7 linked regions of the Homo sapiens genome follow. The protein of the gene in region 3 purifies or fractionates together with the protein of the main gene of each other region. This does not show direct contact. Each region holds a gene or a part of one and is shown on either strand. Other genes may lie near its edges. The genes, in order: NUBPL, NFXL1, ALDH3B2, SLC38A10, TIMM17A, PNKD and COX16.

Evidence for each region.
Region 1: the proteins of ALDH3B2 (region 3) and NUBPL purify together in Homo sapiens (affinity purification with mass spectrometry; one large-scale study listed by BioGRID and IntAct). This does not show direct contact.
Region 2: the proteins of ALDH3B2 (region 3) and NFXL1 purify together in Homo sapiens (affinity purification with mass spectrometry; one large-scale study listed by BioGRID and IntAct). This does not show direct contact.
Region 4: the proteins of ALDH3B2 (region 3) and SLC38A10 purify together in Homo sapiens (affinity purification with mass spectrometry; one large-scale study listed by BioGRID and IntAct). This does not show direct contact.
Region 5: the proteins of ALDH3B2 (region 3) and TIMM17A purify together in Homo sapiens (affinity purification with mass spectrometry; one large-scale study listed by BioGRID and IntAct). This does not show direct contact.
Region 6: the proteins of ALDH3B2 (region 3) and PNKD purify together in Homo sapiens (affinity purification with mass spectrometry; one large-scale study listed by BioGRID and IntAct). This does not show direct contact.
Region 7: the proteins of ALDH3B2 (region 3) and COX16 purify together in Homo sapiens (affinity purification with mass spectrometry, with the first as the bait; one large-scale study listed by BioGRID). This does not show direct contact.

Annotation. Positions count from the first base shown.
Region 1 is NC_000014.9:31,669,404-31,672,903, reverse strand, and holds part of NUBPL (iron-sulfur cluster transfer protein NUBPL isoform 1 precursor), read right to left. Parts: intron 1-3,500.
Region 2 is NC_000004.12:47,883,584-47,887,083, forward strand, and holds part of NFXL1 (NF-X1-type zinc finger protein NFXL1), read right to left. Parts: intron 2,417-3,500; coding exon 2,296-2,416; intron 2,075-2,295; coding exon 1,915-2,074; intron 855-1,914; coding exon 763-854; intron 1-762.
Region 3 is NC_000011.10:67,664,624-67,668,123, forward strand, and holds part of ALDH3B2 (aldehyde dehydrogenase family 3 member B2), read right to left. Parts: intron 3,013-3,500; 5' UTR 2,850-3,012; intron 2,394-2,849; 5' UTR 2,313-2,393; coding exon 2,283-2,312; intron 2,072-2,282; coding exon 1,951-2,071; intron 1,779-1,950; coding exon 1,693-1,778; intron 1,581-1,692; coding exon 1,499-1,580; intron 1,049-1,498; coding exon 662-1,048; intron 1-661. UniProt on the Homo sapiens protein: Oxidizes medium and long chain fatty aldehydes in lipid droplets into non-toxic fatty acids.
Region 4 is NC_000017.11:81,250,308-81,253,807, forward strand, and holds part of SLC38A10 (solute carrier family 38 member 10), read right to left. Parts: intron 2,934-3,500; coding exon 2,766-2,933; intron 2,377-2,765; coding exon 1,888-2,376; intron 1,306-1,887; coding exon 1,186-1,305; coding exon of another isoform or gene 908-1,185; exon of another isoform or gene 563-907; intron 1-562. UniProt on the Homo sapiens protein: Facilitates bidirectional transport of amino acids. May act as a glutamate sensor that regulates glutamate-glutamine cycle and mTOR signaling in the brain. The transport mechanism remains to be elucidated.
Region 5 is NC_000001.11:201,962,003-201,965,502, reverse strand, and holds part of TIMM17A (mitochondrial import inner membrane translocase subunit Tim17-A), read right to left. Parts: intron 1,888-3,500; coding exon 1,759-1,887; intron 71-1,758; coding exon 1-70. UniProt on the Homo sapiens protein: Essential component of the TIM23 complex, a complex that mediates the translocation of transit peptide-containing proteins across the mitochondrial inner membrane.
Region 6 is NC_000002.12:218,340,019-218,343,518, reverse strand, and holds part of PNKD (probable thioesterase PNKD isoform 1 precursor), read right to left. Parts: intron 3,491-3,500; coding exon 3,378-3,490; intron 2,792-3,377; coding exon 2,733-2,791; intron 1,986-2,732; coding exon 1,893-1,985; intron 1,609-1,892; exon of another isoform or gene 1,539-1,608; coding exon 1,375-1,538; intron 20-1,374; coding exon 1-19. UniProt on the Homo sapiens protein: Probable thioesterase that may play a role in cellular detoxification processes; it likely acts on a yet-unknown alpha-hydroxythioester substrate.
Region 7 is NC_000014.9:70,346,184-70,349,683, forward strand, and holds part of COX16 (cytochrome c oxidase assembly protein COX16 homolog, mitochondrial isoform 1 precursor), read right to left. Parts: exon of another isoform or gene 145-3,500; intron 1-144.

The sequences.
Region 1 (3,500 bases), on a different chromosome or scaffold from region 3:
TTGTGCAATTTAACTTTCAACTAAATATAACTCAATTTGCAACAGTTTAAACATTATACCAAGCATACTATTTCCAATAGACACAACATTGATAAATAGTTGGGACATAATTGTATTAAGAAATACTTCAAATACAATTTTAAATATGTTTCTAAAAAACAGCCTCAATACCAGGCACAGTGGGAGGCCAAGGTGGGTGGATTACTTGAGGTCAGGAGTTCTAGACCAGCCTGGCCAACATGGTAAAATGCTGTCTCTACTAAAAATACAAAAATTAGCTGGGCATGGTGGTGCACGCCTATAGTCCCAGCTATTCAGGAGGCTAACATGAAAGAATCGCTTGGACCTGGGAGGCAGACGTTGCAGTGAGCCCACATTGTGCCACTGCACTCCAGCTGGGTGACAGAACAAGACTCTGTCTCAAAAAAAATAAATAACCTCAATAAAACAACTCAACTACAATTTTAAAATGTTTCTAAAAAATAGCCTCAATAACTAATTTTGTCCAATTTTATTCATATACAAAGATACATAAACATATAAATTATATATATGCTAATCTAATATGTGCATACATGTATGTGTATATTTGCATGCACACACACACACACACACACACACACACACACATATCTAATCAGTCCTTCCTACACTGGAGTGTTACTACTTATTTGTTCCTTTACTTAGCTTAAAAAGTATAAAAATCCACAAAAGTAGAAAAACTCAATTTTGAAATCTGAGATGAAAAATTGCATTAATCTGTAGAGAAAAGCAATCTATTGCTTATAGTGAAGTAAAAAAATCCTTTATATAGTCAACAAATGATTACAATAAAATATAATTTGTTTTATCAAACTATCTATGCAATCACCTTCCCACTCACTCTTGCTTTCATATCCTACTTCTCTACCATAACAAATATGATTTGGACAAGTATTGGGCAAAAAGTCTAGGACAAAGTCATAAAACCTAGGAGTATCCTGTTTTCAGATTTCAAGATATGTTCTTCAGGGTTTTTCCCCTCTTGTCAAGAGACTGAGACTGAAAACTGTGTAAAGCATATATGCATGGATTATATAAGAAATCCTCTGCCATATTCCATTCATTGAATCCCTACTCAAAGAAAAAGCCGTGGTCCTTCATTAAAGGAATACTCAATGAGTGTATGTTTATAGTTTCCTTCTTTAATTTCTGGCTAAACTAACTAGCTCAATCTCCCCATACCTAATTTGAAAGCACTATTTTTCTTCTATGTGATTTTCTCAATTCTTTCCAAAGCATCCAATTATAACCTTTCGCTATCACGGTTGGCAATATTTTTGGCCATTTTCTTCAATTACCATATGAATACAGATTAAAGAATCTGAACTATCACATGCTTTTTCACCTTTGATCTGCTAAAACGGTGAGTTACACTAAGAGATTTTTCCTAATTTGGAAACAAACTTGCTTTCCTGGATTAAACCCAATTTAATTATAATGCAGTTGTTTTATAGAATGCTGAATTTGGTCTGCTAATATTTGCTTAATGTGATATCAGTATGTCAAAGAGATATCTGCACTCCTATGTTTACTGCAGCACTATTCGCAATAGTCAAGATATGAAATCAACCTAAATGTCCAACATTAGATGAACGTATAAAGAAAATTTGGTATATAGACACAATAGAATACTATTCATCCATTAAAAAGAATGAAATCTAACTAACTAGGGAGGTGAAAAATCTCTACAATGAGAATTACAAAACACTGCTCAAAGAACACAGAGATGAGACAAATAAATGGAGAAACATCCCATGCACATGGATAGGAAGAATCAATAACATTAAAATGGCTATACTCCCCAAGGCAATTTACAGATTCAATGCTATTCCTATCAATCTACCAATGACATTCTTCACAGAACTAGAAAAAACTATTTTAAAATTCATAAGCAACCAAAAAATAGCCCAAACAGCCAAGGTAATCCAAAGCAAGAAAAACAAAGCTGGAGGAATCATGGTACCCAACTTCAAACTACACTACAGGGCTACCGTAACCAAAACAGCATGGTACTGGTACAAAAACAGGCACATGGACCAATGGAACAGAATAAAGAGCCCAGAAATAAGGCCACACAACTACAACCATCTGATCTTCAATAAAGCTGACAAAAACAAGCAATGGGGAAAGGATTCTCTATTCCATAAATGGTGCTGGGATAACTGGCTAGTCATAAGTAGAAATTGAAGCTGGACCCCTTTCTTACACCATATACAAAAATCAACTCAAGATGGATTAAAGACTTAAATGTAAAAGCCAAAACTATAAAAATCCTGGAAGACAACCTAGGTATTACCATCCTGGACATAGGAATGGGCAAAGATTTCATGACAAAGAAAGCAAAAGCAATCACAACAAAAGCAAAAATTGACAAGTGGGATCTAATTAAACTTAAGAGATTCTGCACAGCAAAAGGAACTATCAACAGAGTAAACAGACAACCTATAAAATGGTAGAAAATATGTGTAAACCATACATCTGACAAAGGTCCGATATCAAGCCTCTATAAGGAAGTTAAATTTAGAAGAGAAAAACAACCCCATTAAAAGTGGGCAAAGGACATGAAAAGACACTTCTCAAAAGAAGACATACATGCAGCCAAAACACATATGAAAAAAAGATCAATATCACTGATCATGAGAGAAATGCAAATAAAGACCACAATGAGATACCAACTCACACCAGTCAGAATGGCTATTATTAAAATATCAAAAAATAACAGATGTTGGCAATGTTACGGGGAAAAGGCAACACCTACACACTGGTGATGGAGGTGTAAATTAGCTCAACCATTCTGGAAAGCATATGGCAATTCCTCAAAGAGCTAAACACAGAATTACCATGCAACCCAGCAATCCCATTACTGGGCATATACCCAGAGGAATATAAATCATTGTACCATAAAGACACATGCACACAAATGTTCACTGCAGCACTATTCACAATACCAAAGACATTAAATCAACTTAAATACCCATCAATGACAGACTGGTTAAAGAAAATGTGGTACATATACACCATGGAATACTAGGCAGCCGTAAAAAAAAAAAAACAAAAAAAAAAACCAAGATCATGTCTTTTGCAGGAAGATGGATAGAGCTGGAGGCCATTATCCTTAGCAAACTAATGCAGGAACAGAAACCCAAATACCACGTGTTCTCACTTACAAGTGGGAACTAAATGATAAGAACTTAGGGACACAAAGAAGGAAACAACAGACAGTGGGGTCTACTTGACGGGAAAATCGGAGGAGGAAGAGAGGAAAAAATATAACTATTGAGTACTAGGTTTAATATCTGGGAAATGAAATATGTACAACAAACCCCTGTGACATGTGTTTAGCTAAGTAACAAACCTTCATATGTACTCACAAACATAAAATAAAAGTTTAAAAAAAAAAAAGCAAAGAAAAGGAAGGAAATTCTGTCATTTTCACAAACATAAATAAGCCTGGAGGA
Region 2 (3,500 bases), on a different chromosome or scaffold from region 3:
ACTTTGCCTCCCAACTTGACTGTGTGACCAATACACAAAAATATACATGCTATTTCAACTGGGAGGAATGTTGTGGAAATGAAAGCTTTTAGAATTAAAAAACAAAAACAATCCTCTCTTTAAAAGACCAATACACCAGAAATACCAATGTTTAATTTGGCACCTCAGTTGTAGACAACAGCCCCTTTTCTAACTTTATGTTGCTTCTCAGCATTCTGTGCTTTTTCCCCTATACTCCATAACCTCTGCTGGAAGTATAAAAAATTCCAGGATTCCGTATTACTGTAGGTTCAGCTCCTTAGAGCTCAGTCCCAGTCATTCACTGGCCCATCCAGGAAACTACTTCCTCTCATTTCCAAGGCTTCCTTTAAATATTCCCCAAGTTTGCCTTATCTAAAACCTGGCTTTCTTCTGTCTTCAGGGAGCTTACAATCCAGTATGGGAATCATCGGGAAAAGTAACAAATGATGTTCCTTGGATTTGTTTTTGTAATTGCATGCACTCGCTATGGAAAGCTAAGAAGGGCATCAAACTCCAACTGGGGGTAAAGACTCAAAAAAAGATATCTATAGTAGGTTTATATGCAAGTATGACAAACATGTTTGAAAAGAATGAAGGTTAAGACAGACACACTAGTTGATAGGCTAGGCCTGAAATAATAATGAACTGAACTAAGAAAAAAGGGAGATTGACTTCAGATACCCTTTAAGCTATGTCAAAAGTTTTTTGTTTTTTTTTTTTAATTGAAATTCTAATACTTACATAGGAATAGGAACTTGACATGGAGGACACGGTAATGCAGTCTGAATAAATGCTGGCTCAGAAGGCTGTTCCCAAGGGCCTGTAGGCTGGTGCTACAAATAAAATACATAAGAATTTTAAGTCAGAGGGATTAAATCATATGGCCATTTTAAGAATCTAAGAAAATAGTTCCATGTATCCTCTGCTCAAGCAGGTTGAAATTTTTTCAAATAATCAATAAATTGTGCTTACTGAAATATTTCATTTTATCTGTATTAAATGAAATTGTTCCTCTCCACAGACATTTGATATTAATAACTGAGACAGAATCCAGTTTATAAATGGTAGAACAAAGGCAGTGTAGCCTCCTTTACTTCCAATAAGGAAATGAGAAAAACAATTGGAAACTCCAACATCTAGCAATTGAATATAATCTCCATCATTTTACTCACTGTTGTTCCTCAGCACCTAAAAAAAAGCTTGATATTTAGTAAGGGCTCAATAAATGTTCATGAGGCTGGGCTGGACGTGGTGCCTCACACCTGTAATCCCAGCACTTTGGGAGGCGGAGGCGGGCAGATCACTTGAGGTCAGGAGTTCGAGACCAGCCTGATCAACAAGCTGAAACCCCATCTCTACTAAAACTACAAAAATTAGCTGGGCATGGTAGCAGGCACCTATAATCCCAGCTACTCAGGAGGCTAAGGCACGAGAGTCACTGAACCCGGGAGGTGGAGGTTGCAGTGACCCAGATCACACCACTGCACTCCAGCCTGGGCAACAGAGTGAGACTCCGTCTCAAAAAAAAAAAAAATTAAATAACTAAAAATAAATAAATATTAAATAAAATATTAAAAAGTGAATAAATCTTTAAAATAAGATTATAGGAGATATCTATAACCCTAAACCACAATATATGAAGGAGGACTGCCAAATTCACCTGTATCATGATCATAATGTAACTATCACACTGTATTTGCAAACAATGGTTTCACTCCTTTCCTACACTGTGAGTTGCTTAAAACAAAATCAAGTCTTGATTACCTTGTACCCTGCTCCAAGCACAGTGCTTCCCAATAAGTGCTTAATCATTGCTCATTGAAAAACTAAGTAAAAGCAAGAAAGTACAACCCACAGCAATGCACTATTTCTCTAATAGTATTATTCCCTTACCCTGCCAGTCTGCTTTATTAATGCTTGATCATGACACGGAGCAGGACACAAGTGACCACATTTCTCCAAAACTTTTTGGCAAGGTTGATGACATGGTGGACAAGAACCAAAGTGACAGCGATGTTTTTCTTGACTTGTATGATGACAAGTTGGTGGTCGACTAAATCATAAAGTACAATTTTCAAAAATTACTTTTAGTCATTGAATAATTACATCTAAAGGACAATTATCTATTTACATATCTTCTGATTCCATATAGAATGAGTATACTGTGAATATTAATATTTTAAAACACTAAAGCAAAATTAAATTATTAAAAGCCAATATGAATTTAAATTTGTACAACATCAGATGGAAGCTTGTGCAAAGCTTCAAACTCACCTGCATTGCTCCTTGCACTTGGGTGGTCTTGTGGTACGTTCTCGGCCACAGGGCACTGTCACCTTTGTATTGCCACAATTACACTTCACATCTACGGTTTCTGGGCAGGGATAGCAACTGCCTGAAAAAAAAGTCTGACAATTAAAAAGTTTCCTTAACTACCCAAATGCCTATTAATGGTAAAATACATAAATTTAGTATATTCACACAATGGGATACTCTACAACAAGAATGAAGAAACTACAACAACATGAATGAATCTTACCACAAAACATTGAGCCAGACACAAGGAGTACATAGTGCATGATTCCATTTATATAAAGTAAACAAGAAAAAATGTACTGTTCAAAATCAGAGTGATAGCTATGAAGGATGCAAGGAAGGTGTTGAAAATTTTGGTCATGTTCTGTTTAATGATGTAAGTTTTGGTTACCTGGCTATGTTCAGTTTGTAAAAATTCAACAAGCTGTATACTTTTTATTTGTAATACTTTTCTCTTTTTTTTTTTGTAACAGGGTCTCAACCTGTTGCTCAAGCTGAGTGCTGTTGCATGATCACAGCTCAGTGCAGCCTCAACTTTCTGGGCTCAAGCAATCCTCCCACGTCAGCCTTCCAAGTAGCTGGGACTACAGACACACACCACCATGCCCAGCTAATTTTTGATTATTTATAGAGATGGAGGGGTCTCACTATGTCATCCAGGCTGGTCTCAAACTCCTGGACTCAAGCAATCTTCCCACCTCAGCTTCCCAAATGCTGGGTGTACAGGCGTGAGCCACTGCACCCAGCCTCTGATTTATAACACTTTTTTCTCTGTACACTGGTACCTCATAAAGTTTTAGACATTTCTCTAAAATGTGCTAAAACTTCTGTTCTAAATAACAAATTTAACACATTACTCATTCAAAACTAAAACAAGCAAAAATGGATTTAAGTCTTTGGAAAATTTAACATTAACAATAATATCGTTGGCCTACTTTCATACATCTATCCAAGTACACAATTTTTAGATGAATTCCCAATAACTTCTTTCTCATGACCTGATATTGGTTAGTAGCAAGCACAGTCAATTTTCCATTAATTGTGCTTTGTGAAAGACTAAGTACTAAGCCACCATTTTAGGATATAATCCCAAATATTTCTCTTCTAAACATAAAAAAAAATGTTATTTTGGTTTCAGCTTTTTACGCTCTTTTGTTATGGGT
Region 3 (3,500 bases):
GTAGAGGTGGGGACAGGGGCATGGGCCAGGGCTCCAGGCCAGGATCCCAAGGTCTGACTTCCCAGCGCTTCAGGCTTTGGAGTGTTTAGGGAAGAAAGTTTCCCCACAGCCCCCCAGAAGGGACCCTAGGGCTTCCCCAGCCTGCTCAGGGCCTGTGGGGCGCAGAGAATCCCCCGACCTTGGTCTCACAGTCAGGGGTGATGGGATCTTAGAACCTTGGAGTTCATGAGGCAGCAGCGTCCCAGAATGTTGGAGCTGCAGTGTCCCATGAGCTGCTGAGTCATACGGCCCAGGAGACTGGGGGCTCAGGATGGGGCCGTCAGAGTTTAGAACCTGGGGATCATGGGCTCGGAGAATCAGAGGTTACGGCCTTTCAGGACAGCCGGTGGTGGGATGGGAATTCACCTTAGCACGCTGGGCCCTGGAGCCCTGGAATCTGAGCTCAGTGAATCCAGGGCTGAGGGACCAGAGTATGGCCTCATGGGGCCACAGGCTCAGAAGCACAGAGACGGAATCGTGGCACCAGAGCCATGGCTCAAGGCCGGGCTCTGATAGTGGGGCCGGGTTTCAGGTGCGAGTCCAGACTCGTGGCCCAGCCGTGGGCCCTCCATTGAGAAAGGGTCTTGGCCCAGGTGGGCTGCGGTAGGGCAGCAGGACTCACCGATGTAGCGATCGCTCTCGTTGCTCTGGCCCCCAATGGCCACGCGGCTGCAGCCCAGCAATGCCCGCAGCCGCTGGAACTGTTTCTGGTTGATGATGTGGCCCAGGTTTGGGGAGCTCTGGGGGTCGTCGCCATAGAAACGGGTGATGGTGCTCTGCAGGGCGGGCAGCAGCCTCTCCTGCATCTCGGGGCTGCACAGGACGTAGTCAGGGGCCACGCAGGTCTGGCCGGCATTGAAGTAGCAGAACCAGGCCACGCGGTTGGCCACGGTCTGGGGGTCGCAGTTGTCGTCCACGTAGCAGGGGTTCTTGCCCCCCAGCTCCAGGGTGACAGGCGTCAGGTGCTTGGTGGCAGCAGTCATGACAATCTTGCCCACACGAGGGCTCCCTGGGCGTGGAAGGAAACCAGAGTGGCCAGTCAGTGACCTGGACCAGGCAGGATGGCCCAGCCCAGAGCCTGCTCCTCCCTGGAGAGGTGTTGGAGTCGGCGGGCTTCCTAGGGACATGGTGAGGAGACCCCATCCTCAACTGGCCTTGACCACACACTCCAGGCACCTGACTCTTGCCCGCTTTCTTCATAGAAAGTCCTGGCCCGCCTCACCCTTCTCCTGGCCGGTCTGGCTCACCCACTGGGACCTGCCTCCAGCCTGGCCACTCCTGGATCCAGTTGCTGCAATGTGCCCAGGGCGTGGCCTATGCAGGCAGACGGACTCTGTGCCAGCTCCAGCTCCCCACGTGCCCCCACTGCTGGCCCCAGCCTCCTCCCTCCACAACCCTCCCACCCTCTCTCCTGATGATCCCCTCCACCTACTCTGGGACCCTGGCCTGGCCCCCTCACCTGTGAAGAAGATGTAGTCCAACTTGTGCTCTAGCAGCTGCCCTGTCTCCTGGGGTCCGCCCAGCACCACGGCAAAGCAGCTCTGCAAGGTGGAATGAGAGGCTCGGGGCGGGCTCGGGGCCAGCCGGGCCTCCTCAGCCCACAGGGGTGATATATGGGGACGTCGGGCACTGCTGGGGCAGGGCCACCCTCACCTGGTCCAGGTACTGGGGCAGCACCTCAGCCAGGACCTTCTCTGTGCCCTGGCTGATTTCTGACGGCTTCAGCACCACGCAACTCCCTGCAGGGGCAGATGGGGACGTCGTTGGGGGAGCCCAGGGTCCCCATGCCCAACCAGGGGCTGGGCTCAGAGGGCATGTGAGGCCCAGGGTACCTCAGAGCAAGATTCCAGGGGCCTCTTTGGGAGGGGCTACTGGGCGGGGAGAGCATGGGGTTCGGAACGCCCTCCTCACCTGCGGCGAGGGCGCCCACCAGGAGCACCAGGGTCAGGTTCAGTGGGTAGTTCCAGGGTGCGATGATGAGGACCAGGCCAAAGGGTTCCTTCCAGATGAAGACCGAGTCCAGCTTCATGAACTGAGGCACAGGGTAGACAGTGAGGCCCTGCCAAGGGCCACCCCAAAGCCCACCCACTGCACACTTGGGGCCTCAGCTCCCTGTGCGATGGAATCCCAGGAGAGACGAGAAAATCAGTGACTCGCCCGGGGCCTCAGGGGCAGAAGGGGGCCTGGGCCAGAGCTACCCGGTGCCCTGCCCTGCCCTCCTGCCGCCTGCCAGCAGGGCTCACCAGGTTCGTGGACCGTGGTTCATCCTTCATCCAGGCCTGCAGGTTCTTGAGAGCGTAGTCAACCTCGTTCTGGCAAAGGATGAGCTCAGATATGTCTGCCTCGAAAGCTGGCTGTGGTGGAGGTGGAATTCAGAGTGGTCAGGCCCAGACCTGGGCCAGGAGGGGTCTAGAATTTGAGGAGGGCACACGCAGGCACCACCACCACTGGACATATAAATACAGCTCCTATGGGAGGCACTGCCGTCCCCTGGGAACTGCGCATGGCTGCAATTCTGATCTGTGACTTCCTGGCTGTGTGGCCTTGGGCAAGCGATGTTAACCCCTGAGTGCCTCAGTTTCCTCATCTGCAACATGGGGACAGCCATGGAGCCTGCATCACAGGGTGGCTGTGAGTGTTCAGGAGTGAAGGTCAGGTGCCTGCCACACTCCACATGCCAGGGAGGGGGTCTGTTAAACAAACAGGAATAAAACTAGGGACATAGCCAGTCACTAGGGGGCACGGGCCCTCCTGAAAGAGGACAGGGACGCTGCTCCAGCCCCTGCCGGGGCCCACTCTCCACGGCCCACCTTATGCAGGTCCTGGGCCAGCACGTCGCGCAGAAGCTGCTTGTTTTCTTGAAGGAAGTGGCCCAGGCCCTGGAGCTGCGCAGCCCGGAACTCGGCCGGCCGCGTGCGCCCTCAGTTGAAGGCCTCACGCAGCCGCCGCAGCGTGTCCTCGAAGGGGTCCATCCTGCCGGATGGGGTGGCTTGAACTGGGTGGCCAGGGCTGCCCCTCCTTCACGGGCACCCTCCAGCCACCCCAGGGTCTGCACACCCTTGCCCCACCTGCACCCATGGGGGCTCACAGACACCCCACCTCATACACACACAGACCCACTCGAATGACCCCACGGGGCTGGGGCTGCCTGCACCACCCCCAACTCACCTGCCTCCCAGGTGTGCCCATGAGGGAGGGCCCTGGGCTTGACCTCCCCTACTCCAGGGAGGGGATCCCCCTCCTGGACGCCCACCCTGGAAGCCCAACACACACACCTCGGGTGACCCTGCTGCCCACCATCCCAGCTCTTCCCTGCACCTCCCCTCCTTGCGCAGACACACACCCACCCACGCTGGCACCTTGCCACCCCTACACCCAGACCACTCAGATGGAACAGAGCTCTCCCCTGGGCCTCCCTCCCTTCTGGGACTAAACGAGGGACTCGGAGGGTTCTTTGCTTC
Region 4 (3,500 bases), on a different chromosome or scaffold from region 3:
CCTTTTGGCTCTGCCTTCCGCGCTGCAGGTGCAAGGAGGGCGAGCTGCACCTGGAGAAGCCAGGCCGCAGCGACTGGGACGTGGCTGCTGCACCTGCCCTCCCTCGGACCGGCTGTCCTGAGGCCACAGGGCAAGATGCGCGGGCAGGAAGCGTGTGTCTTACGAACATCCTGGGAGGTGCCCGTGCCAGGGCTGGCCCGGAGCTCCCACACCTGCTCCCAGGGGCTTGGCACAGGAGGCTGGAGCGGCTGTGCCCTGCGACCCCCACACAGATCCCTGGAACAGACCCTCTCAATGCTGAGGCACACGTGGACCCCGCATGGGGCAGGGTTGACCATCTTGAGAGAAGGCTTGGACACTGCCACCAAATGCACGTGACTTTTGGTGAGCGGGGGCCCAGCCACACACCCTCAGAGGGCGGGTGGACCCCTAGCCTGGGAGAGGACATGGCACAGAAGCCTGTCCCCAGCAGGCTCACAGACGGGGCTGCTGCTACCCAACTGCATGAGGCCACAAGGAGGGGTCGCAAAAAGCCAACAGCTGAGACCCAAGGGGCGAGAAGTTTGGAGGAGGATTCAGAGCAAGTTTTATTCTCAGGAGAGCAAAGGCGTAAGGAGCTTTCCTGGAGGGACAGGTGACAGATCCCTGTAGATGAACACAGCCGAGCTCCGAGGCCCGAGGGTGTGGGAGCAGTGCTCTGGGCCAGGGCTATGCTAGGACCAGGGCGGGCACAGCCACCCCCAAACTGGGTCCCCTTGGGGCACAGCCTTAAAATAAACCTCCACATCTGGGTGCAGGCACGCCCACACCTGGCTGGCTTTAAATACTCCGAGTGTTAAAACTGTTAACAAACCTGCTTTAAAGACGAAATGGTAATCACAAGCCAAGTGACAATGCCGCAGGTGTTTTAAAGGGGAGCAAGGGAGATAAAACGGTAATCACAAGCCATGTGACGATGCCGCAGGTGTTTAAAGGGGAGTAAGGCAGATAAAAGGTTCCCAGAAAGCAAGCTGCTGATGGGAAGGGAGCAGAAAGCTCTCCGAGGGGTCTGCTCAGCAGGCGGCTGGAAAGAGAAGGGGGGCCTGGCAGGGCTCCCGAGGATGACCTGGGCATCACCCCAGGGCTGGGGGAGGGGGCTGCCGCTCCCTGGGCCTGAGGCAGGCGGCTGTAGGGCGGAGGCCTTACCCTCCAGCTGGCTGGCCGCCTGGTTTCCACCCGCTCGCTCCACGTCCCTCTGCTCGCGAGGCTCGGGCGGCAGCCCAGGCCCTGGAGCCGGCTTCTCCGCTGGGAGGGGAGGCTTCCCACCTGCACACACGGTGAAGACTCAGAAGGTTTTGCAGGAAAGTCAAGGGAGGGTTTGGGGGGTTGGGGGACAGAAGGCAAGGGCGGGACAAAAGGAAGTGGCAGATGTTTCTAAAGTGACACCCCCGTCAGCACAGTTTATATTCAACCTGATGATTACTAGCGAAGCAATAAAAAAATATTTAACAACCTCATAGGCTTGTGGCAATGAGCCAATGGTAACTGCCTTCGCAATTAAAATGCAAGAACTGTCCTAAGCAGCTCTTAGACGGGCACTTAACAACGTGTTACCTGTCAGGCGCCCCCCGCGCCGCCCCCCGTGTGCGCCCAGACACACGAGCACAGCGCGGCACCTGACATTTAGTGGTCTGGCAAACAACTGTGTGACAGATATTACAGTAGCTGTCAGCCACCAGCCTCTTCCTGTCCCCACCAGCTGCCGGGGCCCGCTCCATTTGCATGCTAATCTGGTGCAGGGAGAGAGACTGGGGACTGAGGGAGGAACCATCGATTCTGCTGCCCCTGCCCAGCCTCCCCAGCCCAAGAGGGGAGTGTCTTCCGACACGAGCCCAGGCTGACACCCACCGTGGTCGCTGTCCTCTGCGGGCTGCCCTGTGTCCCCGGCGGCGTTGCCTGGCGGCGGTCCCCCCTTGGCCTTTTCCCCTCCACCCACCGCCAGGCCGTTCTGCTGCTCAGACAGCACTGCCTGGGGCCGAGGATGCAGGCCCCTGTCTCCTGGCCCCAGGTCCTCCTTTGCAGGCTGGACAGCTGGCTGACCATCTGCTTCTGGAACTTTCTGGGGATCTTCAGGAAGATCACCCGCCTCCTCCAAGGCCTGGGCCTGTCCAGGCCTCTTCCCAACCTCTCCCTGCTCCGGCTCTTGTTTCTCTCTTTCTGAGTCGGGCAGAGGCGGCGCCATCTGGCCCTGGACCCCTGGAGCCTTTCCGCCCGCGTGTCTGGATGGAGGTTTGTTCTCTTCTGGCACCTCTCGGTCTTGGCCTTCATCTACCACCACCTTGTCGTGAGGAACAGGAGGCTCGTGGCGGTGGGCCTCGCCCACAGGCACAGCAATCCCTGCAAGGGCACGGGGGACAGATGGGGTCAGGCTGAGGCCCCTCCTTCCCTTCCCAGGGAATTAGAACTGGGTTCTTCCCTGGGTTCTGGCTCCCAACAGTGTGACACAGGCCAACAGATACCACCTCCCCTGCCGGCCTCCCTGCTGCCTGGCCAAGCACAGCTGATGCTAAAGTTCAACAGGGGCAGCTGCAAACAAGTTGCTCTGGGAGGGGCAGGACATTCATCTGAATTGAAAGACAGAGAAAACAAAAAGGACCAGAACTTAGGCTGGGCTGAAGGGAAAAAGATACACACAGCCCTGAGAGCCACCCCGCAGGGTGTCCAGCCTGCAAAGGAGGACCCGGGGCCGCCCTTCCCCATCCGCACCCCCAGCCAGTGCCCAGCACCTTGCCCAGGGCGATCGAGCTGTGCCTCCTCCGGTGCCTCCTTGCCATCTTCCCGTCCAGGCACATCCACGGGCCCCTTGATCTGGGCCTGCTCCAGCTCCTCTCTCTCCTTCGGCAGCTTCGGCTTCTCCCGGCCATCCTCAGCCACGGCCACAACCGGATCCTGGGCTGGGAGCAGGGCACAGTTAGGGAACTGCACTGCCAAGCAGCTCCAGGAGCGGGGCAGCTCTCCCTGGACTGTTACCATATTTTCCAGCCAAATGGCAGAGTCAAAGCAGTTTCTTTTTCCTGTTCGATCATTAGCAGCTAAGTAGCACAGAAAACTGTCATTTTTCATGTGTATTCACAACAAAAATATGTCAAAATGCGATTTACACCTAACTGGGGGCAGGGAGAACTAGACTCCATGTAATACTCAGTCATTACCACCAGATGGCGGCACGAGCCCACCGACCCACTCTCCCACAGTCCCCTCCATTACCATCACCTCCATCATCACCGTCATCACCGTCACCTCCACCACCACCACCACCATCACCGCTATCATCACCATCATCTCCATCCCTACCACCATCAACATCACCATCATCACCATCATCTCCATCCCTACCACCAACATCACCATCATCACCATCACCATCACCATCATCACCATCTCCATCCCTACCACCATCACCATCATCATCACCGTCACCATCATCACCATCTCCATCCCTACCACCATCACCATCATCA
Region 5 (3,500 bases), on a different chromosome or scaffold from region 3:
CCAGCTCCTTCAATTAAAGCTAGGAGAATGCCACCCATTGCGGCTGACCCAACCATGGCCACTGGTCCATCTGAAGACATTAATAACAAAGAGATTATTTTTTACAGAAATCTAGTTTACTGTAAGAGATAGTAAAGAAGAGAACTGTCCATATGGTGACATGCTCCCCCAACTCCCAAACTCTTTCTTATTGCCTAAGACCCAGAGTCAGTAAACTACAGCCACCCACAGTCCACCCACTGCCTATTTTTGTAAATAAAGTTTTACTGAAAGGCCATAAATCCCAGCACTTTGGGAGGCTGAGGCAGGCAGATCATGAGGTCAGGAGTTCGAGACCAGCCTGGCCAACATGGGGAAACCCCGTCTCTACTAAAAATACAAAAATTAGCTTGACGTGGTGGCGGGCACCTGTAGTCCCAGCTTCTCAGGAGGCTGAGGCAGGAGAATTGCTTGAACCCAGGAAGCAGAGGTTGCAGTGAGCCGAGATTGTGCCACTGCACTCCAGCCTGGGTGACAGAGTAAGACTCCGTCTCAAGAAAATAAATAAATAAATAGGGCCGGGCGCAGTGGCTCACGCCCGTAATCCCAACACTTTGGGAGGCCGAGGTGGGTGGATTACGAGGTCAGGAGATCGAGACCATCCTGGCTAACATGGTAAAACCCCGTCTCCACTAAAAATACAAAAAATTAGCCAGGCGTGGTGGCACACACCTGTAGTCCCAGCTACTCGGGAGGCTGAGGCAGGAGAATCGCTTGAACCCGGGAGGCAGAGCTTGCAGTGAGCCGAGATTGCGCCACTGCATTCCAGCTCGGGCGACAGAGTGAGACTCAGTCTCAAAAAAAAAAAAAAAAAAAAAAAAAAAAAAAGAAATAAAATAAAATAAATAAATAAATAAAGTTTTACTGAAACACAGCCATACTGTTTCGTTTATGTATTATCCATGGCTGCTTTCATGCTATGACAGCAGATTTAGGTAGCTATGACAAAGACCACACAGCCCACAAAGCCTAAAATATTCACTATCTGGCCTTTTACAGAAATAGTTTGCAAATCCCTTGGTCTAAACCACTAAGCTCAAAGGAATTCTCTGTCCTGAGGATCCAGAAGATGGTTCTAAGTTCCTTATTCATAACAACTCTATATGGCAGGTGTAATTATTAATTAACTCCAGATTACTGGTGAAGAAATTATAGCATAAAAAGTTTGGTAAACTGACCAGTCATACAGCTAATTAATGGCAGAACTGGGACCTGAAGTGCTCTCAACCACTGTAATATATGGGTTAGAATTCCATGCTCTTTCATTCTCAAATATTCCAAATAAATAGATCCCCTTACTTTTTTTTCAAATCACCATATACTGTATATTTATGCTATGCCAAATTAAACAATGCTCAGTTTTATAATTATTATTTTTTTTGAAGCAGGGTCTCACTCTGTTGCCCAGGTGAGAGTGCGGTGGCTCAAGTGATCCTCCTGCCTCGGCCTCATGAGTAGCTGGGACTATAGGCATGCACCAACACACCCAGCTAATTAAATTTTTTTTTTTGTAGAGACCAGGTCTCCCTATATCTGATCTCAAGCTCCTGGACTTGTGCAATCTACCTGCCTCAGCCTCCCAAGTGATGGAATTATAGTCATGAGCCAATGTGCCTGGTCAATAATCAGTTTTATATATTACAGATGTCATTCAATTGAGGCAGATGAGGTTTTCCTAAAAGTGTGGCTTCTACTAGTATGTCTGTAATGACTACTTACTTCTTGCTGCCAGTATGGCTCCCGTTAAGGCACCACTTGTGATGGAGTTCCAGGGATCTTCCTTTCCTCTGACTTGAACCATACTACAGTCAATCATGGAAAACAGCCCTCCCCAAACTGCAAAGCTACCTATTTTATTGTAAAAAGAAACAAGCAAATACTAATTTAAATTTCATCTTCCATTTAAAATATTATAGTCAAAAACATACTCACTATAGTCTCAAAATTTATAGTCCAAACAAATACATGCAAACACAAGTTTGAATAAACACCGAACAAGAGTTAGAATACTTATCTTTCGAATAAAGCTGGATTGTATTATATCAGCTGGAAAATTAGCAACGGCCCAAAGCCTATAAGAAATAAGCCAGCCGGGTGCCATAGCTCACACCTGTAATCCCAGCACTTTGGGAGGCTGAAGTGGGTGGATCACCTGAGGCCAGGAGTTCAAGACCAGCCTGGCTAACATGGCGAAACTCCGCCTCTACTAAAAATGTAAAAATTAGCCGGGTGTGGTGGCGAGCACCTGTAATCCCAGCTACTGGGGAGGCTGAGGCAGGAGAATCGCTTGAACCCAGGAGGCGGAGGTTGCAGTGAGCCGAGATCGTGCCACTGCACTCCAGCCTGGGCAACAAGAGCGACACTCCATCTCAAACAAACAAAAAAGAAGCCAAGCCTAAAACAGTCAGGCTGCATATGTGTAAAAACAAGCAAATCACCCTTCCAGAATAACATATCTCTCTGGTTTAAGCAGCAATAAACAAAATCAAACTACTCTGCTTCCTCTTTCGTTCTTCTTTTCTTTCATAGCTTTACTTACCTCTATTTTTGGCCTTTCTGCATTATATGTCATTGAGCATCTACTCTATGAAAATCACCGATGGGAAAACAAAAGAAATCCAGCTATTCTGGAACGTATTACAGGTGTAAGCCAATCCATGCTGAAGGGGCAAATGAATGATATAAATAGCTAGAACTATGGAACATCAAAGGGATGGAAATTGCCTGTCCATCCTTTATTCCTCAGATATGAATTTAAAACAACCTTAAATCAGCAGATTACTTTGCACTTAAACTCTATCTAAATACAAAAACAGCCAGGTGCGGTAGCTCACGCCTACAATCCCAGCATTTTGGGAGGCCGAGGCGGGTGGATCATGAGGTCAGAAGATCGAGGGCATCCTGGCCAACACGGTGAAACCCCCGTCTCTACTAAAAAATACAAAAAAAATTAGCCAGGTGTGATGGCGGGCACCTGTAGTCCCAGCTACTCTGGAGGCCGAGGCAGGAGAATGGTGTGAACCCAGGAGGCAGAGCTTGCAGTGAGCCAAGTTTGCACCACTGTGCTCCAGCCTGGGCGACAGAGCGAGACTCCGTCTCAAAAAATAAAAAAAATAAATAAATCCAGTGGATAGTACCAGTGGAGTATAGCATAAGCATCCTCATTTTTAGTACAATATTAGACATCACATCCTATGTAAAAACAAACCAGTTATTTCTTCTAACTCAGTAATTCTATGCCCTGGGAGAGAGCTATGACGTCTAGGTATATTAGAATTACCTCACTAAAATTTTCTGACAAGACCCTCCCATTTCCTCATGAGCCTAAAATCTCAGGAGACCCTTCCCCTGAGAATCATTGCCAGAATAAGTGTTGGCTACTAATGAGAATGGAGAATTTGAGTCTAAGCAGGATGAGGAGGAGATCCATAAAGGGTAGCCTGGTGTGAGGATCCAGAGCC
Region 6 (3,500 bases), on a different chromosome or scaffold from region 3:
TTGCCCTCAAAGGTCCGCCCTGGGTGGGGGTTGGAGGGTATGTCACAAGGTGCCAGGATAACACAATATGGCATAAGGCACACCCAGACAGGTGGGAACCAGCTTGTAATGCTCTGGCTGGCCGTCAGCCCTGACTGTGCACTTTCCAGACCCACCCCAGGCATCTATTCCCTCCTCACTGGGAACTGGGCCCAACTGGTCACCCCCTGACCAAGCCCATCCGAGGCCTCCGTTGCACACAGTGACACCTGAAGGGAGGGGCTGTGGAATCTTCGGGCTGCAGGCCCCAGGCTTGGTAGACGCAGGGCTGCTCTTTCCCACGGAACACTTCTTCGCCTAGGCTGCCCTTTGGGATTTCATGCAGCCTGGGACTTGTGATCCTCACCCACCCACTCACCTAGCTGTTCTTAACTTTTCATAACCTAGTCCTGCCAGTCACTGTATCAGAGAACCAGTCTCCACCCAGGGGAAACTAATTCCCTGCAGGGCTTTACTCAGCTACAGACATTCTCCCATTCTGTCCCGCAGCTGGCAGAAGTCTTTTTTATTTTTGAGACAGAGTCTCATTGTTGCCCAGGCTGCAGTGCAGTGGCACAATCATAGCTCACTGCAACCTTGAATTCCTGGGCTCACCACCACACTGGCTAATTTTTGTATTTTTTGTAGAGACGGGGTTTCACCATGTTGCCCAAGCTGGTCTTGAACTCCTGGGCTCAAGCAATCCACTTGCTTTGGCCTCCCAGAGTTCTGGGATTACAGGCCTGAGTCACTGCTCCTGGCCTATATTATTTATATTATTTAAATTTTTTTTTCTGTTTTGTGACAGAGTCTCACTCTGTCTTCCAGGTTGGAGTGCAGTGGCGCGATCTCAGCTCGCTGCAACCTCTACCTCTCGGGTTCAAGCAGTTCTCCTGTCTCAGCCTCCCTAGTAGCTGGGATTACAGGCATGCACCACCATGCCCGGCTAATTTCTGTATTTTTAGTAGAGACGGGGTTTCACCATGTTGACCAGGCTGGTCTTGAACTCCTGACCTCAGGTGATCCTCCCACCTCAGCCTCCCAAAGTGCTGGGATTACAGGCATGAGCCACCACGCCTGGCCTATTTTAAAATTTTTTTGTAGAGACAGTCTTGCTATTTTGCCCAGTCTGGTCTCCAACTCCTAGCCTCAAGTGATCCTCCTGCCTCAGCCTCCCAAGGTGCCCCAAGGGAAGTCTCAAGGATTAAAACCAATCTGAGTAACACAGATGGAAGTAACTGCCACGGCAACATCTGTGCTAAAACTAAGGCTTCAGTGCTCTCCATGGGACTGTGGCTGCCCTGGCTTCTGTCTCTCCCTCCTCTCCCAGCTCCTCTCTCTTTCGGGGAAACTCACCACAGCCAGAGAGGAAGAGCAGGTCCCCTGAGAAGAGGCAGGAGGGACCCTTGTAGGGCTCCCCATCCAGTAGGTAGACCAGATGGCCTTGTGTGTGGCCAGGTGTAGCCAGGGCCCGGATCTGAAGCCGTCCCACGCTGACCACATCTTGATGACACAGGGGACTGGGGAACAAGGGAGCAGGGGACAGAAGGTATTGGATCTGTGCCATGCTGATCCCTGTCCCCATCCCAGGCCCAAGGGGCTGGGTGATTCACAAGAGAGTGGGCTTCCATACAAAAGAAGTCACCCCAGTGCCTCGGGTCTCAGGTCCGAACCCTCCCCCTTTCCTCTTTTGGGGACTATGGCTGGATCAGTTGGGGGATGGGCAGTGCCAGTCTTCAGATAGGCTGGGATTGGGCCAGGAAGGGCACTGGCAAAGATCCACCTGCTGATACCCCTGAAACACTTCACTGAAGGCTGGGGGTGGGGGAAAGGGCCCATGGAAGGGCCATCCCTTGCCTAGGTCAGGGACTTACTGGGTGAGGTAGGGGATGCCGTCCTGAGGGCTCCCGTACACCCGACAGTCCCGGTGCCGCCGGCTGAGGTCACGGTTCCCTCCACTGTGGTCCCTGCAGGACAGCAGAGACAGGCAGGGGGCTTCGAGGGGCAACTGTACCTAAGCCCCCTTCTTTACCACAGCATCTCCAGGCCTTTAAGTGCTGGGGCTGTGGCTTCTGGACTAAGCCAAGTTGTCCACACCTCTAGGCCTTTGTTCAAGCTGTTCCCTTGCCCAGAACATCGCCCCCAACAACTCAAGCTGGCCAATGCCAGCCGAGCTTCCTGAACCCTCAGCTCAGGTCATCATCTTTCAATTCTCCAAGTGGATCTGATCACACCGTGCCTGGGCCTCCCATCCCTGTTCCCTGTGCCAACTGTTACCTAAATATCACATACTTCTTTTTTGAAGACAAGGTCTCACTATGTTGCCCAGGTTGGGCTTGAACTCCCAACCCTCTTGCCTCCGCTGTTATATACTTTGATACAGGGCTACCTCCCCTATTGGTCTTAGAATTTCCTTGATGGAAGAGTCATAACTTTTGTCCATGCCCAGTGTGCAGTAGGTATCTAATACATGCCCATGAAATGAAAGAGAAATGACTGCCCTGCCCTCTGGGGCTTCAGAAGCTTGATCAATGGAGTGGTGGGAGACTGTCCCCTCTCCTCCCTCCCTGCTGGTGTCCAGGTGACTTCACGAGGAAGGCGGGTGCCGGCCCGTACTGACTTCTTGATCTCTGGCCCCGGCCGTCCTCAATGGGCCCAGTCCTGGCAAGCCCAGCTGGGACAAGGGTGGGCCAGGGAAGACGGGAGCCCCTTACCAGTGCTTGTGAGTACACAGAATGGCGACCAAGGTGACCCCTTCCTTTTCAATGGAAGCCTGCGAGAGAGAGGAGGTTTGGAGACTGGGGAGCAGGATGCAAGAGGCACTTGAAGCAGCAAGAGCCAGGAGTGTGGGCGCTGGTGGAGAGGAGAGGAGAGCATGGAGAGATGAAGCAGAGGAAAGGGATGGAGCTGGAGGGGAGAGATCCAGGAATGTGAAGCACGGGGCACATGGAGGCAGAGGGACACTTGTACATAGAGAGAGGCAGACACAGAGAGATAAGGAATGGGAGGGAAAGACAGAGAGACCCAGATACTGACAGACAGAGGTGACAGAAAGAAAGGGGGTCTGAAGGGGGCCAATGGGAGTGAAAGCCAGCCTGGAAACTCACTAGACCCAGAGTCCTGGGCCAACACCCCCAGCCCTCTGGCTCTGCATCCCCCACTCCTGCTCTCCCCTTCTGCCCAGCCATGCCCTGTACCCCCCTTCCCCAGGCTATGTGTGCGCATGTGCACGTGTGAACATGGAGCATATGGGACACATCCCACGGGCAGACGGACAAGGGTCAGCCCTCTCTAGCAAGGCGAAACTGCCAGTCCCCAAGGTGACTCCAGGCACCCCCTGCTCCCTGCCCTCCCCTCACCTGCACAGCCCGAGGGTCTGAAGGGTCCACAGCCACAGCCAGCTGGGCCTGGGTGTCGATGATGAGGTAGCTGTAGTTGTCCGAGAGGACAGGGATGGGAAGCACCTTCACTCCTGGGGACAG
Region 7 (3,500 bases), on a different chromosome or scaffold from region 3:
TCGGTGCAAGCTTCAGAAGCTTGATGATGGCCCTCAAACCTCACAAGACCGTCTTAATTTAGCCTTCATAGTCTTTAACAATCGTGATAGGGAAAGTAAAAGGCAAAAACAGGCGGAGTTTCAAATGCTTGCCTCCGCCATCAGGGGCCCTGCAGGCCCACGGGTCCGCAGCTCCACACGGAAGCCTCCTAGCAACCTACCTCCACTTGGCACCTTTTCAAGTGCGGCAATGAAGGCCACTGGTCCAGACAATGCCCAAATCCAGGTAAGCCCACCAGGCCATGCCCCCTCTGCAGAGGACCCCAATGGAAATTGGACTGTGAGCGGCCCCTGCAAGGGCGGCCCCATCACTTCCTAAGCCGGCCAAAACCTCCTACTTGGATCTCATTGGCCTTGCCGCTGAAGATTGATGGTGCCCTGGAATGGATGCCCCGGCAACTACCATCGCTTCATCCGAGCCAAGGGTAACCCTGATGGTGGCAGGTAGGCCAGTATTTTTTTTTTAATTAATACCGGGCAAACTACTCTGCTTTACCTAATTTTTCAGGACACACCCAGTCCTCCCTTTTCTCCGTTGTGGGAATTGACAGACAAGACTCCAAACCCTGAGCCACCCCTCCACTTTTCTGCTCCCTGCACACCTTTTCCTTCAGTCACCCTTTCTTAGTCCTGCCCTCATACCAGAGACATCCTTTCAAAACTCCACACTACTCTCCACTTGCACATTCCCCATAGTACCCAACGCATCAACCCAGACCCCTCGGGGCATCTAACTTTCTTCTACTCCTCCAACCTGCCACCTTAAAACATGCAACTTTACCTTATCCCCCATCCGTAGTTAACCCCGCTGTTTAGAATATTTCCACACCTTCAGTCGCAAAACACCACACCCCCGTCCGCATTACCCTTAAAGAGTCCACCCAGTTCCTATCACAGAAGCAGTATCCCATCCCCCAAGCAGCTCTCATAGGCCTAAAGCCTATCATTTCTCGCCGCCTCACCAGTCACCTACTCCACCCAAGAAACTCTCCTTTTAACACACCAGTTCTACCTGTTTAAAAGCCAGATGGAACTTATCACTTAGTCCAGGACCTCAGGCTCATTAACCAAGCTGTACTCCCAGTATGTCCAGTAGTTCCTAACCCATATACTTTACTTTCTGCAATTCCCTCCAATACCACCCATTTTCCTGTTCTATACCTAAAGGATGCTTTTTTCCACAATTCCTTTACACCCTGATTCCCAAAACCTCTTTGCCTTTACATGGGAAAACCCCGACACCCACCTTTCACATCAGCTCACCTGGTGCGTACTACCTCAAGGTTTCAGAGACAGCCCCCATCTTTTTGGACAGGCCCTTGCTCATGACCTCTGTACCTTATCCCTAAAACCGTCCACTCTCCTTCAATGTGTTAATGATCTGCTCCTGTGTAGCCCCTCTCAAAGAGACTGCAACGCCCATGCTATCTCTCTCTTTTAAACTTCTTGGCAGAACGGAGGTATCGGGTCTCCCCTAAGAAAGCACAAATATGAGCCCCCTTAGTCACTTATCTAGGCCTGGCTCTTACCCCATGAACCCGAGGGCTCACAACCGACCACATATCCCTCCTCCAGTCTCTCCCACCTCTGCAAACTAAGCAAGAAATTCTCTTTCCTAGGACTAGTGGGATATGTTAGGCTCTGGGTTCCCTCCTTTGCTCTACTTGCCAAACCATTATACCAAGACACTAAAGGCCCTCTCCATGAGCCTTCAAACCCTGCATAGCCTATTACCCAACCTTTCCATCTACTCCAGAAGACTCTCATCTCAGCCCCCATCCTCACTCTCCCAGACCTCACCAAACCTTTCTCCCTCTATACCAACGAACGTGTAGAGTTGCACTAGGTGTTCTAACCCAGTCTAAGAGACCCACCCTCCAGGTTATCGCCTACCTCTCCAAACAGCTTGAAGCCACAGTTCTCAGATGGTCTGCCTGCCTCCAAGCACTGGAGGCAGCTGCTGTCTTCATCCTTGAAAGCCTAAAACTATCTCTCCATGCCAACCTAACAGTTTATTCAACCCATAATATCAAAGACATGCTAGCTCACCACAGTGTACTAAGTCTCATCTCTGCCCCACGGCTCCTCCAACTGTATGCTCTGTTCATAGAAACCCCCCAAATCACCGTGCTAACCAGCTCTCATGTAAACCCTGCCATGCTCTTTCCTGAAGCTACAACCGCCCAATACCCTACACACTTCTGTGTGAACACTGTTCAAACCTTTCTTACACCTTTTCCAAACCTAACAGCCCAACCCCTTCCAGATGCCTCCTTTACTTGGTTTGTAGATGGCAGCTCCTTCCTATGTCAAGGATGCCGGCATGCTGGCTATGATATAGTGTCACCCCCTCACACACACTACTGAAGCCAATCCGCTCCCCCAGGCACCACCTCCCAAAAAGCTGAATGCACTGCTCTCACTCAAGATCTCACTCTAGTAACCAGACAACAAATTAACATATATTCAGATTCTCATTATGCGTTCCATATAGTACACTCACACTCGTCTATGTGGAAAGAACAAGGTTTTTTAACTGCAAAAAACACTCCTGTCATAAATGGCTCTCTTACCAGCAAGCTCCTTCAAGCTGCCAGACTCCCGCAGAAAGCTGCCTTCATTCATTGCAGGGGCCACCAAACCCGGGACAATCCTATATCGGCTGGAAATGCGCTAGCAGATCAGGTAGCCAAACAAGTAGCCCTGCAACCCATGCAAGGCCAGTTTCTGTCCCTGTCCTTGTTCTCTCCTCTTTACTCCTCAGAAGAAAAGGAGGACTTCTGAGCCCAAAACCTTCAAAAGCAAGGACCATGGTATGTCAAGGAAAGGCACTTCATTCTTCCTCACTCTCAAAGCCTTCCTCATCTCCAAAGCCTCCCCAACACTTTCCATGTTGGTTACAAATTCTCTTGCAACTTCTCCGCCCTGTTCTCACTTGTCCTCACCTTTCCAGCTATGTTCAAGATATTACCCAGTCCTGCTCTATCTGCCACTCAGTGTCACCCCAGGGCTCCCTCCGGCCACCGCCTTTTCCTACCCACCAAGCCCGGGGCCAGATACCCAGGCACGATTGGCAAGTAAACTTCACTCACATGCCGCCCAATAAACAGCTCCGCTATCTTCTAGTCTTGGTCTGTACCTTCTCCAGGTAAGCAGAAGTGTTCCCAACAACTTCAGAAGGTGCAAATGTCACACAAACTCTCATCATGCATATAATTCCCCATTTCGGCCTCCCAACATCCATCCAGTCCGATACAGGCCCACCTTAATCAGCCAAATTATCCAAGGCGTCTCTACGTCCTTAAGAATAAAGTAGGTTCTCCACACACCCTACAGGCCTCAATCTTCAGGCAAAGTTGAAAAAATGAACTCTGTCCTTAAAGCCCAACTCACCAAGCTGGCTCTAAAAACCCAGCAGTTGTGGACAAAAAAAATCTCCCTTTTGCCCTCATAAGGCTCTG